Linked DNA regions of Homo sapiens: region 1 is linked to region 2. A link means that fine-mapping ties the variant in region 2 to the expression of a gene that starts in the linked region. Tissue or cell type: whole blood. Region 2 holds a variant in brackets; the other region holds the start of a gene. All regions are shown on one strand. Distances are from middle to middle. Region 1 holds the start of RAP1GDS1 (Rap1 GTPase-GDP dissociation stimulator 1). Region 2 holds the start of LOC105377340 (a long non-coding RNA gene).

What was found.
Region 1: RAP1GDS1 starts here. The variant in region 2 is fine-mapped to the expression of RAP1GDS1 in whole blood (TOPMed, PIP 0.99).

The regions. Positions count from the first base shown.
Region 1 is chr4:98,256,825-98,265,384 of GRCh38, forward strand. RAP1GDS1 (Rap1 GTPase-GDP dissociation stimulator 1) reads left to right here and starts at 4,560. Exons shown (of 15, transcript NM_001100427.2): 1 at 4,560-4,745. The coding sequence starts at 4,742. RefSeq lists enhancers at 3,801-4,100, 3,852-4,414 and silencers at 4,381-4,680, 4,781-4,850.
Region 2 is chr4:98,198,377-98,206,936 of GRCh38, forward strand. LOC105377340 (a long non-coding RNA gene) reads right to left here and starts at 5,755. Exons shown (of 4, transcript XR_001741771.2): 1 at 5,324-5,755. RefSeq lists an enhancer at 5,674-6,395. The variant G/C (reference allele first, on the strand shown) is at 5,181.

The DNA of each region.
Region 1 (8,560 bases), 58 kb after region 2:
CATGATATGTACTTATAGCTATTTCTTTTTTTTTTTTTTTTTTTTTTTGAGACGAAGTCTTGCTCTGTCGCCCAGGCTGGAATGCACTGGCACGATCTCGGCTCACTGCAAGCTCTGCCTCCCGGGTTCACGCCATTCTCCTGCCTCAGCCTCCCGAGTAGCTGGGACTACAGGTGCCCGCCACCATGCCTGGTTTATTTTTGTATTTTTAGTAGAGACGGGGTTTCACCATGTTAGCCAGGATGGTCTCGATCTCCTGACCTCGTAATCCACCCGCTTCGGCCTCCCAAAGTGCTGGGATTACAGGCATGAGCCACCGCGCCTGGCCCTTATAGCTGTTCTTTTATAGCATCTAGCACAGTGCTGAGCTCAGAAGAAATGTTCAATAACTACATGACTGATTTTAAAGTGGTATATCCCATCTAAAAACTGTATGTAATCTAGGTCTGTTGTTGCTTGAAACATGTAGACATTAGTTTGAGGTGACAGCCTATGAAAATAATTTAGATTTTACAACATTTAGAAAATGGCTAAAATATTAAATAAATGGAGAGCGGGGGAGAAAGAGGTTACATTGAGGTTAAGACATTTCAGTTGTTCAACCTGGACTAACTTGATCTCACCAATGAAGTCTCTGAAAAATAAACAGTTTAGGCAGAAGGCTGTTCACTGCCAAATCATTTTCTATCACCGCAAAGTTCAATTAACTACTCCAGTGAAATTCCCTTAAATGATATTCAGAACATCATGGTGAACAGGAGGCAATCAGTTCCCTATTATACTTTTAAAGAACATTCTCTCCTCTCTTTCCACTTCTTGTTGTGTTGCCCCTCCCAATAGATTTCCTCTAAAGAATTTAAATCACCTTCTAACCTCTTTAAGCTTACATGCATCAATGAGGTAAGTTATAAGTCTTGCCAAAATGTACTGCTTCTGATCTTTTCTAAAAGACATTTTCCTTGATACTCCCCCATAACAGCTATTTAGTAATCATAAACCAATTTTCAACAGAAATTGTTATTCAAATAAATCCGTGATACTTTATAAATATGACATTTCCTAGATTGAAGTTGAAAACCTTTGCACTGGGCCAGAACTTCCTTTGTTTTGTAGCAGGCCTGATAAAATCCTGACCATTGCCTAACATACAGTATGGGTATTAGTAGATCGATTTTGGAAGAGTCTCTTGACATCAGGGATGTCAAGAGATGTAGATATAAGGTGTTGCTATCTTGTACTGGCTGCTCTCAGAATCCTGACCTCAAGTGATCCTCCCTCCTCGGCCTCCCTAAGTGCTGGAATTATAGGTGTGAGCCACCATACCTAGCAAATTTTTATTAAGCACTTGCTATGTGCTAGCACTATTTAGGCACGGGGGTTATAATGGTAAATACAGCAGACAAAAATTATTTCCCTAGGAGAACTTACATTTAAATGTGGGAGACAGTCCAAAAGCAAAATATATATTATCTTATTGATAACTGCTAAGGAAAAAAAATAAAGTATAGAAGTGGGGATATGAAATGGGAAGGAGTGTTGAAATTTTAGATAAGATAACTAGGGAAGACATCATGCAGGTAACTTTTGAATAAAGACATAAAGGAAGAAAGTAAAGATATGAGACAGAAACATTATATTCTTATAATAGAACAAGAAAGGAGAGGGGAAGGGAGGTGGCATTGTGTGTGCAAGGAGTAGGCAATATACCAGTCTGGAAGTAATTCACTTCTGCATATAACAATCAGTATTGGTTCTCACTATGGTTACAACACCGGTGCATTAGGACTCAGTATATGCACTAAGCCTGAACAATCCTTTGGTTTTAATTGGCAGGAAGGCTAAGGAGATGGCTTGTAGATTGAAGTAGAACAAAAAAGGCACTTTAACTAGTGTCAGATGGGAAATGAGAAAGCCACTTCAGCTGCTTTTGCTAATTTCAACGCTTACATCCAAATAAATGATAGAAGATACTCCATGAAATTATTATAATATGTAATTAGATAAGGAAGTAGGAAAAATAAAGCAAGTTAACTTGACAATCTGGAAGAGATTAATGAGTGTTAAGGAGAGATGAACAAAAAATGATGAGCAGCAATGCAAAGGCCCAGGCTGGTCTTCTGGAGGAGTAATAAAATTAATGTGTAACATGGCCGATGTGGGGGCAGTGAGGGGCCCTGAGGGTGGGGTCTGCATTGGTGTATTATGGGTTGAATTGTGTACCCCTCCCGGATTCTTTTTTTTTATTTTTATTTTTTTTGAGACAGGGTCTTGCTCTGTGGCCCAGGCTGGAGTGCAGTGGTGCAATCTCAGCTCACTGCAACCTCCGCCTCCCGGGTTCAAGCGATTCTCCTGCCTCAGCCTCCCAAGTAGCTGGGATTACAGACACGTGCCACCATGCCCAGCTAATTTATTTATTTTATTTATTTTTTAGTAGAAATAGGGTTTTGCCATGTTGGCCAGGCTGATCTCCAGCTCCTGACTTAAGTGATCTGCCCTCCTGAGCCTCCCAAAGTGTTAGGATTACAGGCGTGAGCCACTGTGCCTGGCCCTGGCTAATTTTTTGTATTTTTAGTTAGAGATGGGGTTTCGTCATGTTGGCCAGGCTGGCCCTATTCATATGTAGAAGTCCTAACCCTTAGTCCCTTAGAATGTGACCTGATTTGGAAATAGGGTCATTGCAGATATAATTAACGTCCATGAGGTCATACTGGAGGATGGTTCGCCCCTAATCCGTTATGACTGCTGTTCTTATTAAAAAGGGAAATTTGAACACACAAGCACACTGGGAGAACAGCCATGTTCAGATTGGAGTTACGCTACCATATGCCAAGAAACTACCAGAAGCTAGGAGAGGCATGGACGAGATCCCTCCCCAGTGCCCTCAGAGGGAGTACAGCCCTGCCTACACCTTGATTTCAAACTTCTGGCCTCCAGAATTGTGAGATAATAATTTGTTGTTTTAAGTCACCCAATTTGTGGTATGTTACGGCAGCCCTAGGGAACTAATGTAGTGCGATTATTTTAAGAGGCAAACAAGAAGAACATCCTAAGAGTGAGGTGCCTGATAGTCTCATGCATCAGAAAAGTCCCATATATTTGACTTCAGCAGTTAAATTGTATTTTCCTGTTTTACCAAACCTTTTTAATTATCGTTTCTTGCTGTAGAAAAATCACATAAAATCTGCTCTTTGCTTAACAAATTACAGGGTCGCTTCTGATTTGTGTGCTCGAAATACTAGTCACCAAGCAGAAACTGATGACTGTGAGAATAGGCGACTAATTAACAAACAAACAAAAAAAGCCCTTTCTCAACATTGGATTGACCGAGTGAAAGTTGACAGGGGAAAGACACCTCGATTCAGCCATCTTTCTCCAACAGGTTGTACTGCTGACTGCACAGTGTCCCCTGAAGGACTCCGGTCGCTGTAGCCTTGGAGAGCGACCAGATTCCTCACCCCACTCAGGAGGAGCCAGGGCAAGATTAGGGTGCAGAGAAATCGGTTTCCTCCAGCCTCCTACCCCAGGGAAGAGGACCGAAGCCAGCCCCGGCCTCACGTGCATGCCCAGTCGGGAGGACGCCCTCAGTGGGAGAGCCCTGCTCAGGTTCTCCCCGAGGCCGAGGTGGTGGTGGGAGCGGGCGGTGGCCCCGGGATCAAAGGACCTCCGCCGGGTTAGCTTTGGCAGTGCCGCAGCCAACCCAGCAGGACGCTTATTTTCAAGCCTGGGGAACGTAGTTCCTCCCGCTTTCACAGCAGGATGGAGCCCGACGGCACCCCGGTTAAAGGGCCTTTCCAGAGCCCTCCGGGGAACGGAAGGCCGCGCTCCTCCGGGAGGGAGAACGACACACTCTTCGAGGAAATCCTGGGGCGGGCGCTCTCCTCGCTGCCGGGACCTTTGTTTCTAAGCTGGCCACAGCTAGAGCAGCCTTAAGTGTCCCAATGACACGCCTGCTATCGAGCGCCCTCCCGGCGGCCCCTCCTCAGCCAGCTGCCCAGCGGGCGTCCTCAGGTGTCCCCAAGAGGCGCAGGCCTAGTCGCCTACACGTCCTTTCCAACTTCGTCAGCTCTGGCTTCCCACCACCCCTCCCGGCTCTGCGGCGGCCCAGCCTCTTCTCCGGTTAATTCCGGCCTGTGCGGCCCGGTCGTCCCGTAAAGAAGGCAAGCCCGGGTTCCGGGTGAGGGGTTGGTGGGTCAGGGTGGGAAAGCAAGGCAGCGGTGAGTCCTCTGCTAGCAGATCGGGCTCAATATCCCCATTCCCTGTTTTCTCCGGGCCCGCCCTCCGCCTCTCAGGCGGCCGCCATGAAGATCCTCTGCCGCGGCTGCAGCCGGTCTGCAAACACACGCCCACCCGCACGCTTAGCCTCGCTCGCCACAGAGGGAGGGGTGGAAAAGGCACTGAGCATGCTCGGTGGGGAGGGCGGGGCGCTCGTGGGCTGCGAGTCGGGGCCGGAGCTCTTCAGGCCGGCTCCCGCGCCTCCGCCGCCCGCCCGCTCGGAGCCGCGCCCGCCGCAGGCTGCGCCCGCCAGTCCCGCCCCGCCCCGCCCCGCCCCGCCCCCCGCCGCTCGTCCCCGCCGCGGCCGCGCCGCCTGCAGCAGCACCAGCTGCTCCTCCCCGGCGGCCGCCCCCCGCGGGTCCCTCCCTGGCTGCGGGAGAGACGGAGGTAGAGGGAGGACACAGAGCCGCGCCGCCCGCACCACAGACCTTCGCCTCGCCCCGCCGGTTCCTCACCCTCGGGGAGCAACATGGGTAAGTCATCCTTCCTCCGCCGTCATCGCCTGACATTTTTTTCTTTCTCGGCGTGCTGCAGGGTGGGAAGCATTTCTCGCGCAAAGTTGCCGGATTTCTCCAGTCCCCGGGTGTGAGACGGTGGCTGTTCCTCCGGGGAGAGTCGGCGCACGCGGAACGCACGCCGGGTGCCGGGGCTGGGAGGGTCCCGAGCGCGGGCTGGGGTGGGGTCGGCCGCGGGCCGGACCGCCGCCCGGCTCCCCGGCACCTCGCAGCCTCGCCTCCCCTCCTCCATTCTTCCTGCCGGTGCCCGGGCACCACGGAGCCTGCCTCGCGGGCTCGCATCTGCAGCTCCATCCCCGTTTCTCCAGAGGCCGCCCGCTTCCTTTTCCCCCGCGTGTACTGAGCTCGAGGCTCGGGTCCGACCACTACCACTTCGTGTAACTTCCTTCTCTGTCAGTGCGACCTTTCCCCGTCGTGGAGACTCCTCATCCCGGGCGGGGAAGTGGAAGCAAGTAGTTTGTGAGGGAGATCTTACAACCTGCACGGAAATTATTTTCCAAGGGGGAGAGCGGACAGCCTCATAGGTTGAAAGGATGACTTGTCAGAGGCCACGAGGAACGTGAGGCAGGATAGAGCCGCTAGCTGTTGAATTAGTGCTGGGTGACTACAGTGTGCAATATTCCCGTGCCCAGCCTATTTTCTGGATTCCTTCGTCCGTCTTCTGTAGCAGGAAACTGCGCCCTGTAACGTTGTTACCGAACTTACATGGTAGTTATTCTTTCCCAGCTTCCTCCTGTCTAATCTGCATAATCTGATTTTAGTTCCTTTGTATTTATAGTTAATCTGAAGAGATTGGTTTGGATGAGAGATTTAAGAGCAAATATGTTTTATAAAACGATATATACATTTGACCTAATTTTTTTACATCATCTATTGCTTAACTGTTACATTCAGTAATCACAGAAACGTCTGATGAATGCTGTCATGTAATTAAGAGCTCAAAGTTTCTTTTAATAGTAGCGACTTGTACTAAGTTCCCCAGTTTGCTTCCACTCCTGTCTGTCATAATTTCCTCTTTTTAAAATTTGCTCCCTTGGCATCTGTCAGCTGGGACTTTTCCCACCCCTTCTGTGCGAGTTATTTAAAGCTTGAGATGAATGTGGTCCTTTCATCTGTTAATACAGTGCTCAACACGTTCAGAGTTAGGTGGTGCAACTCAGAATCTTCAAGAAGTATCTAAACCTGGGAATGGTGTCCATAGAGTTTTCTGGAACAGCAAATGCTTCAGGCTTTGATCCCGACCTTTGGCCATATATCTGGAAGAGGCCAGGGTTGACGGAGGAGGTGGTATGAATCAAAAAAGGTCTAGGGCTCTGAATTTTATTTTCAGTTGTTTTTTCTTTTTAACGTGAGTACTCGATATGCTGAACAAATTTCTGTAAAAATTGGGTGGCCCATTTATGCGTGTCTGCCTTTCTCTTAAAGTAGATTTTTAAATAGGTATTATATCAGATTATTGGACAAGCTGTATATTTCCGTCGAACATACACACGTTTATGTGTGTTCCCTTTGAACATACACAGATAAAATACACTTTGAAATAAAATTCCTTTGAACATACATACACAGATAAGTGTGTGTATGTTCAAAGGAAATATACAGTATGTCCAATAACCCTATCTGATATTGGACTGTAAGTTCAAGTTTGGCTTGCAAAATATATTTTCCCATGTTTCCAGGTGAGCCTTAAACAATCCATTTAACATTTTAGCTTACATGTTAAATCCGTACTTTTTCAGTGGAAAAAATCCAATTCCGTTACAACACTGGTGAATAAAAATACCTAAAAGAAATTATCTACTTAAAAATAATCTTCAAAATCTTGAGTGCTATTGCTTGATTTTTAAAAAGGGCCAAATAGAAACCTATCTCTCATTTTGAAGCCATCTCTGATACTCTTTGGTTAATCTGTCTCTTCATAAGCACTGTTTGTACCTTGTTAGAAGCTTTTTAGCACTTACGTAATCTACCATATAATAAAGTTGTTTATGTGTGTGCTGTGCATTTAATCATGAGTCCCAGAAGATGAAAAGTGTCTTATTATTTTTTGTGTTCCCCACAGTGCTTTTCAAATAGAAATTCAGTAAATCTTTGGCAAATTGTTGAACTTAAAGCCACCTATTATTTTCAACTTTTGAACCTGAAGATATAGTCTTCATCTGAACAAACATTTGGGTTGGTACATATTATCTAGTTGGGGGATAAGCAGAAACAGAAAGGTATAATTGTACCATGCCTCCCAGTACACTGTAGGTTGGTTTTGAGTCAACCTCAGGCAATCTGTTTCCTTCTAAACTCTCTTCAATGGTAAGGCAGTTTCATGTATGATCAGTAGGTACATATGATAATTTAAAATTGAAACCTTGGGGAACAGTTTTATATCTGGGCCAAGGAAGTTAGTATAACAATTCATGTACACATAAGAAGGTAGAAGGTATACTGGTTAATGATGAGGGGAGGGAGAAGTGCTTTTTAATTTGTCTCAAGAAATAAATAAGGTTGATTTTTAAAGATAGTCTCAGCCGGGCGCGCACTTTGGGAGGCCGAGGCGGGCGGATCACCTGAGGTCAGGAGTTGGAGACCAGCCTGACTAACATGGTAAAACCCTGTCTCTACTAAAAATACAAAAAAACAATTAGCCGGGTGTGGTGGCGGGCGCCTGTAATCCCAGCTGTTTGGGAGGCTGAGGCAGGAGAATCACTTGAACCCGGGAGGCGGAGTTTGCAGTGAGCCGAGATCATGCCATTGCACTCCAGCCTGGGCAACAAGAGGGAAACTCTGTCTCAAAAAAAATATATATATATATTCTCATGGCAATAATTTCCTACACAAGAGAGTGAAAGAAAAGTCCTATATAACTTTATGGCCATAGCTACTATTTTATGTATATGTCATATTTCAGATTCAACATACATTTAGTGTTTGTTGGATATCAACTGTGCAGTGTACTGTACTACAGTGTACTGGGAGGACAAAGATAAAAAGATATTCATGTTTCACATTTATAATCTTAGCAGGAACAATATGACACATACACAAATTATAATAGAAGTAAAAGTATAAGTTATATAAAAGACCTTTACATATATTATAGATTCAGAGAATGGAGAGAACGTTTTAGAGAAATGGTGTTATTTGAACCAAAGGTGGGTTAAACTTCTTAAAGGTAGAAATGAGACTGTTAATCAGAATGGAGTTGGTCTGGGGTTGGAAGAGAAATGACATAAATGAAGATAGATAGGAAACATTTTATGAATTTCCAGGATATGATTAAACAGCATTGTTTGGCTAGAGCAAAAGGTAAGGAAATAGTGGGTAACAGACATGAAAAAGTAGTACAGTAATAGCTAATGACCAGATAATGTAGGATCTAAAATGCCAAGCTGAAGAATTTTAATCTGACTTACCTATTGAGAGACCACTAAACATTTTTATGTAGTTAAGTGATGGATCACATCTGTGGTATAGGAAAATTTGTCAGTTGAGTGCAGGATCGATTAGATGAGAAACTACAGAACACTTCAGAAGATTGTTGTTGGAGTTTGGACGAAAATGTTTAATGGCTTGAACCAGGTTATGGCAACGGGAATAGAATATTGCAAATAAAGAATAGGATTTACTTGGCAACCCATTGAGTATGGAATTGAGAGTCACAGGTTTTAGCCTGGGTGATAATGAGGATACGAGAATCTCCTGATACATATTCAGTTAACAGGAAGAGGAAACTTAGATACTCAATTTTGGACCTATTGCATTAGACTTTTTGGTCTGTC
Region 2 (8,560 bases):
AATCATATCTAAAAAATCTGTTTTATGGTGTAAGGTCACATATTCACAGGTTCTAGGGATTCAGATATCAACATATTTGGGGAGGTGATTATTCAGCCAAACACAGAGGGTCTCTTAGAACACTAACTTTAGCAAAAGTACCAGGAAGAATTCTTATTGGCCCAGCTTGGGTAATATGCCCATCCCCAAGACAATCACTATGGCCAAGGGGGTGATGTTGATGGTCAGACAGCCTAATCTGCATGACCACTCCTGAAGGATGTAATGAGAATGCTGTGACAACGGTCCCACTGGGTCTATATGTATTTGGAGAGGGATGGCTTTCCAAAGGAAGAGTTGCTATTACCAGAAGAATAAAGAAGGGATTATGAGCAGACTCCCCTCTCCCCTCACCAAAAAAAAAAAAAAAAAAAAAAAAACCCGCACAAAAAGCAGAGGCACACTACGAATTCCCATTAGAACAACACTGTCAATACTCTGGTAATAATAACAGAACTGTTCTTATTTGAAAATTCCATGTATGAGGATGTATACCTGTCTATATGTTTTTGGTTTGGACCAAAAAAGCAACGAATAAGAATGCGAGATTTAAGGTCAGACAGACCTGGATTTATAGCCTGACTCTACCCTTTCTAGCTGTGTAACATTTTAGACATGTTATTGAAATTTCCTGATTTTCAGATGCCTCACAGGTAAAATAAAGTTGCTTACTATATTGGACACGGATATTTGTCATGTTTTCTGACTACCCAGCATATTTTGAAAACAATTTTACCATACTGGAAAATCCTCAGTCTTTAGAGTCCCGCTTCCACAAAGTAGAATGCAGAAAACTGAATTCTCAGCCTCTCTTACTGCTGGGCCTAGGAATATGACAGTGACTTTGACTTCTCCTGTGAGATTCACACATGTAAGAATTTGACAGGTAAGTAACGGAGTTTATGTGGACTGTTTTAAAATCTTGCATACAAGAAGAAGGCTCCAGTCAGAATCCATTTTTCTGGTACAGTGGACAACAATGCTGCCGTCTTGTGGTGGTAGCAACAACACTGTATGCAGTTTAGTTTCTCAGTGATTTCAAGGTCAAGTTCCAGGCACAGATGTGGCCCAGGCAGGGAGTTGAGAGTTGGCAACACCTTCCCTAGTGCTCTGTGGGACAGCAAGAGAAGCAGCAGTTTCCTCTCCGCGCCAACTTTGCCATGTGATTTTCAGAATTGTTCCTAGGAGCTTAACTTCAAGTCTAGCTCTCCAGGCCTCCAAATGCTTCTGTGAGCTAACCAATAGTCTTTTTTTCAAAACTCCCTTTTCTGCTTCATCGGCTAAAGAGAGTTTGCTTCAGTTAAGTAATATTAACAGTGATGAGGCCGGGCGTGGTGGCTCACAGCTGTAATCCCAGCACTTTGGGAGGCCGAGGCAGGTGGATCACAAGGTCAGGAGATCGAGACCATCCTGGCTAACACGGTGAAACCCCATCTCTACTAAAAATAGAAAAAATTAGCCAGGCGTGGTGGCAGGCGCCTGTAGTCCCAGCTACTCGGGAGGCTGAGGCAGGAGAATGACGTGAACCCGGGAGGCGGAGCTTGCAGTGAGCCGAGGTCACGCCACTGCACTCCAGCCTGGGCGACAGAGCCAGACTCCATCTCAAAAAAAAAAAAAAAAAAAAAAAAAAAAAAGTGATCACTATATATTTATCTCAGAGAGTGATGTTGCAATTAAACAAAATAAGATATTGTTATGCAAAAAAGGACCAATGGCCAGTCAGTACACATACCAGATCTGCTAGAGCAAAATTTACTGGGGAAAATTCATGAAGACAGGAGCAGTAACAAGCATGCAGTCCCCTGTTGCATTGTAAAGTGGAACACAGAGTGCTAGCATGGTCTAATGTCACATTCTGGGATAGGGCCCCTAATCCCCGGTGTGCGGACTTTTGCCTGTTTGGAAGCATTGTCTCCTACTCTCAGGCGATCAGGGACCAGGATACTATAACAAGATGACATTGCAAAACTTTGGCTCCAGCCCTAGTCTGTGAACTCAGCTTTCATATTTGCAGCAAACATGAGCCCTTCCCCTGGCATAATCAGGAGCCTAAGGGCAGGTCTTATGGTTGACCAGGATTCACTGCCTCGATGTTTGGCTGTGGCCAGTTTTCATACAGCTTTGTAGAAGGTCAATTCCTTTTCTTTTTTTGGAGGCCACAGGGGAATCATATTTGGGCAAGTTAATTCTTACCTCCTGGACTGGGTTGAATAGTGTTCCCCCAAAATTCATGTCTACCTGGAGTTTCAGAATGTGTCCTTATTTGAAAATAGGGTCAGGCCAGGCACGGTGGCTCATGCCTGTAATCCCAGCACTTTGGGAGGTCAGGGCAGGTGGATCATGAGGTCAGGAGTTCAAGACCAGCCTGGCCAATATGGTGAAACCCCCGTCTCTACTAAAACTACAAGAAAATTAGCTGGGCGTGGTGGCGCGCACCTGTAGTCCCAGCTGCTTGGGAGGCTGAGGCAGGAGAATTGCTTGAACCTGGGAGGCAGAGGGTGCAGTAAGCTGAGATCGTGCCACTGCACTCCAACCTGGGTGACAGAGTGAGACTCTGTCTCAAAAAAAAAAAAAAGAAAAAGAAAAAGAAAATAGGGTCTGTGCAGATGTAATCAACTTATGAATAGGTCACCTGTAGGAGACAGTTTCAACATGCTGACAGCTTACCACCTCAAATGTTGTGTGTCTCTTCTCTGCCTTAGGGTTTTTTCTGGGACTAACTGTGGGAGTCTGCTCCACCCAAGTCACTCAAAGCAACAACAATCAATATGAGTTTGAAGTAGATGGATAAATGCCCCAAGCTTTCTAGCCTCCCACAGGACAGTTTTAAAGCATTTGAGAGACTCTCTCTCTCTCTCTCTCTATATATATATATAGACAATGGCCAGACCATATATGAAAATAGAACTCTGACCTACAATCTGTAGCAAGCACCCTAGGAAATCATACCATATCTACAGAAAGCTAGGATATTATCTGTAAGTCAGATTTGTAGGAAGTCAGACCACTATCTCCAGAAATCAGTCCAGTAAGTCAAGCAATAATCCCTATAACAATTGGCCCAAAATGGCCAGGACTCGATTAATAACTGACAGCTTCCCTAATTTTTGTCCCAGCTTCCAAATTAGGACCAGCCAGAGAAAGCCAAATATGCACCCCAATCAATCACACAGAAAGCCCCAAATCTGTTTAGCCTACCTATAGCTTTCTTAAGCCAACAGCTTCAAATCAGGGCATACCTGAAACCTTCTCTTTTTACCACTATAAAGCTTTCCACTCCTATGCCTGCCTCTACCAAACACAAGTGATGAGTCTCTACCAAAACACAAGTGATGATGCCTGACTCTCTTGCTATATCAAGGTCTGAATATATGCTTTGTCTGTTCTCATTTGGTCTTCATTTATTTCCATATATGGCATACACACTTTCTCTGGGGATCCCAACAAAATTAAGCCCCAGTTGCCCACTACTGTACTTTGCTCATTCATGCACTTTTTATTGGCTTTCCCTGCTTCTCTATCTTGGTTTGGTTTCCTCAATTTGCCTGCCATGAGGAATTATCTCCTGAATATACCATCTGCACCTAAGCTCTTGTTTCAGGGTCTGTTTTTGAGGAAATACAATGAAAATAGACCATATTAATGGAAGCACAATTTTAAGAATATTATATATTAACCTTGAATATTTCCCATAAAAAGAGGCATTTAAAACTAAAATTCCAAAGTGACTGCATCAACCATTGTTTTCTTCTAGTCAAAATGTTAAAATACTGAATATTACTTTTTAAATGTTGGTATTATTCCAATGGCTTTCTATGCCATTAATGTATTTGGCATATGTTTTTTATTTTCTAAAAAATGTTGGCAAAATTCCCTAAAGGGAATAGTCATTTAAATTTTTTTTTTAATTTTTATTTATCCCACATGTTAGATATGAGTTCTAAATTTCTTTTCAAAGAATCAATATATCAGTATGTTCAGTTCTTTGCCTTCTACTTTTAAACTTAACTTCCACATAAAGCAACCTTTTTTGATTACCTGCTCCACCCTGACTCATTTCAATCACCTGCCCCACCTTGACTCATTCCGATTACCTGCTACCTGCTCTGCCCTAACTCATTCTCTACTCTGCATAACCGTTTTTCCCGCCAAACCATGCACCCCATCACTGTCTTTAAATTAGCCAGTTGGAATTAGTTTAGCCTGTGCGGCCTAACCCGAGCCAATAGGGGAATGACACAGCAGCAGGGGCCACATGCGTCAGGCATAAGAACCCCTTCCCTCCCTTGTCCAAGTGTGCGCTCACCATTGCTCCATCTGTAAGGGTGCACCCTTCTATAGAAGTACCTTGCCTTGCTGAGAATTAAAAGAAAATTTTATATTCAAGTGCTATTTCTTTTGCGGCACCGAAACTTTATTTATAACACACAGGTAAAGGTTTAATGTGTGACTGTACTAAAAATAGGACTGAAATTTGAGAATGCATTTAAAGGAGAAACAATAATATTCAATAATATTCTACTGGTTGGAATATAGCTTATAAGAAAAGCTAATTACATTTACAGAGTAGTTGAAAATCTTGGACTTAGAATATATGAATGATATTCATTTGAATAAATTAAGAGAATTGAAGCATCTTTCTTGCAAAGTGATCCAGTTACATTTAGTGAGGGAATATTCATGTTTAGGCTCAGTGTCTCTGGAAACCTAAAAAAACTAGAGCACATTTGCCCTGCAGGCTCTAACTTGGAAATTCAATTACGATTTATTGATAAAAAGACTGCACCAGTGAAAATATGTTATCCTAATTTAGGAATCAATAAGCATTTCTGTGATTTTTATGCACTACAAATTATATACTTTAATTTATGCCTATCTGATGTCCAAGTATGTTGGTAAATGAGATGCCTAAAACAACATGTGGAGTTAGAATATAATTATGTTAATGCTAAAAAAAGGTGGCATTTGTATTCTAACCATAACAGAGCTTATGTGGACTGTTTTAAAAACTTGAGCACTAGGCCCATTACAGTTTCATAGTGTCCCTTCTGTCTGTCATCTTTTACACCTGGCTGATCCTCCCACACACCATAAAGACAAAGTGAAAGCACCAAGAGAAGTTTTAGGCAATTACCTCCACA[G/C]ATTTCCATTTCTCTCTCTCGAAACTCTCATCTCCGTCTGGCCTGCTCTGATTTTTGATGGCCTGCATGTGTAATAGAGTTCCAAGTGAGGCTGAATTTAGAACGCTGAGTGACAAGCTGGCAGCATGTACTGCTTTACGTACCTGTAGCCTATCCTCTTGGAGATTTTCTCTCTTTTGCTCTTAGTTGTGTAAGATGTTAGGCACCTGTTCTCTTGGGGGGAAGTCTCATAACCTGATGTTTGTCAAGATTTCTTGGTATGCAGAGCTTGCCTCTAGGGTAGGGTGTGGAAAATTTGCATACTAATGAAGGAGCCACTTGGAGAAAAAAATGAGTGAAGATCTGAACAACTAACTTCCCTTTTGAGGTTTAACGTCGTTAGAAAATTTCTGACAGATTGAGGTGGTTCTGCTCAAGATTTTTAATTGGAAAATGGCATCAAAGGTTTTGAAATAGAAGTCTCCCTCAGTGCTTTGGGCTTAAGACCCATCCAACTCACGAACCTAGCCATCTAGAATAAGCAGTTTTGGTTAAAGCACATGTGAGAAGTGAGAAGTTCCTAAGCTACTTCAATTCCTAAGAAACTAGCACATAGTCAGTTTTGGAGATCCAAGGCTAAACGTGTGTCTGTATAAACTTGAAACCAAACTATGGTATAACTGTACAGTGCTGAAGAGATCTGAACAAAGAAAGGATATCATTGCAGCAGTAATAAATAGGCGTTCCTTAGACTGCAAAACAAGTGCTTGGTAGAAAAACCAAGTACAATAACAGAAAACCTCTGATGCTAAAGGCCTTCATATAATTTTCAGTTCTCTTTCTTCACTTCTTTTTATGAATAGTTTTTTGTGGGGAGGCCACAGTAGGCAGACATTGACGTTTCTGCAAATACAAGAATGAGATTGCTAATAGATATAGACCAAACTGGTAAATAAAAGTTGTGGTTTCCAGATCTGCTCAGTTTTAGAGTTTCGGCAGACTCCCTGTATTCTTGTGTCTCTGAGTATAAGCTGCGTATATTGCAAAACTTAGATAAGAGTTCTGTTGATTCCGTGGGAGCATAAAAATTGAGCAGAAAAATAGAGTTAATTTATTTTTTAAAAATCCACATAACTCAAAGTATTAGAAAACAAAATGAATTAAAACATAGAAATCAGTATGTAGATTTACAATGTAGCCTGGTTTGGCCAGGGGCAGTGGCTCACGCCTGTAATCCCAGCAGTTTGGGAAGCCAAGGTGGGTGGATCACCTGAGGTCAGGAGTTCGGGACCAGCCTGACCAACACGGAGAAACCGCATCTCTACTAAAAATATAAAATTAGCCGGGCATGGTGGCGCATTCCTGTAATCCCAGCTACTCGGGAGGCAGAGACAGGAGAATCGCTTGCAACTGGCAGGTGGAGGTTGCGTTGATCCAAGATCACGCCATCGCACTCCAGCCTGGGCAACAAGAGCGAAACTGCGTCTCAAAAAAAAAAAAAAAAAAAAAAAAAAAAACCCAAAACACAACAATGTAGCCTGTTTTACAAGTCTCAAAGTATTTCGGTGGCCAGTAGGAAGTTGGCTAACTGGGAAAGATGCTGAGATACAAGATTGGCTGAATGGTAAGATAAGGCATTCTTAGTTTTGGAATGGGGAACTGGGAAGTAAGATGAGATCTAGACCCAAAAAAAAAATCAAATATAGCCAGAAACGTAAACTGATGTCTTAACTCTGTGCTTTTAAATCAGTTTCACACTTCTATTCCATATGTGCCTGGTACCCAGTTTAAAAAAAAAGAAAAAAAAAACCCTCTGGACAAAAATGTGTTGGAAAATAAAATGAAAGAAAGCATCCCATTTACAAAATCAGATTTCATAATTAAAATACTTAGGAGTAAAAACTGAGAATCTACTTGGAGAAAAAATTAGGGAATTTTTAAAACTTTAAATAAATGGAGATATGCTTTGATCTGGTATAGAAAGACCAATCTTATAAACATGAAAATTCTCCCAAAGTTTAATAAGTTGATTCAGTGTAATCCCTAACAAAATTCCAAAGAGTTGTCTTCTTTTATTTTTTGATTTGCAAAAATAATACTAGAGCTCACCTATAAAAATAAATGTGTGAATAAAGACAGAAAATTTCTTAAAAAGAAAATTAATATGGGGAAAATATTTCTATCAGGTATTAATATGTGTAGAGCTTTAATATTAATGAATGTTATTAATAGCCAAAGAACAGGCAGATTTGTGAAACTAAAGCATTCAGAAGTAAGCCCAAAAACAAATAGGAATTCAGTGCATTAATAAATATATCTCCTTAAATTACTGAGAGAAAATCAGTTGTTCAACAGACCAATATTGAAAAACTGGGCATGAATCCCAGATATGTAAATATTTGATTGTAAAAATGAAATAATAAGAGAACTTAAAGAAAAAACAGAGAATTTTTTTTTTACAACCTTAGACTAGGAGGCTTTTAACAGGAAGACTGAAAATCCGAAGTCACTAAGGAATAGTTTACATTTGACTGCATAAAAACTAAGATCTCCTGTAAGACTAAGTGCCTGTAAGAAAAAGAGAATCTTACTACAAAGACAAAATACAACAAACCACCTGAAGAAAACATTATTTGCAACATATGACAATAAAATCTTAATTTCTTTAATATACAAATAAGACTTGCTAATCAATAAGAAAAAAGGCAATCAAATAGACAAAATAAATGGCATGGTCTATAGACCTGTAGATCAATTTAAAATACTTACTTCACTAAGAAATGAGGCAGGCACAGAAAAAGTCTCCTTCATGAGTCTTAATTCTAGTAGGAAGGCTAACAGTTAGCTGGTGAATACTTGTATAGCCATACTAGTTGCTTATGACTTGTGCTTACTCTTATTGGTCAATGCCCACACCCCTTTTAGTTGTTAAATATTTTAGGTATCGTCACTGCTGGCAGAGTGTAGGCAGACAATAAACCAATAAGAATGTATAGCAGAGTTTCTCAACCTCTGCAGTATTGACATTTAAGAATGGATAATTCTTTGTGTGAGAGGCTGTCCTGTGCATTGTAGGATGTTTAACAGCATCCCTGGTCTCTACCCACTAGATGCCCATGGTAGCAATCACCCTCCCCACTTGTGAAAACCAAACATATTTTTAGATATTGCCAAATACCTCTCTCCCCTGTTGACAACCACTGATATATGGATAACATTTCAGGTAGAGTGTTATGAAGAAGAATAAAGGTGGGTGAGAAGAGACAGAATGAGGGAGGCATAGGCAACTTTCAGTGGGATGGTAAGGTAAGAGCTCTCTGAAAAGTTGGCACCAAGCAGTGAGCTGAAGTGAGTGAGCCACGCTGCTACAGAGGGAAAAGAATTCCAGGCGGAGGGAACAT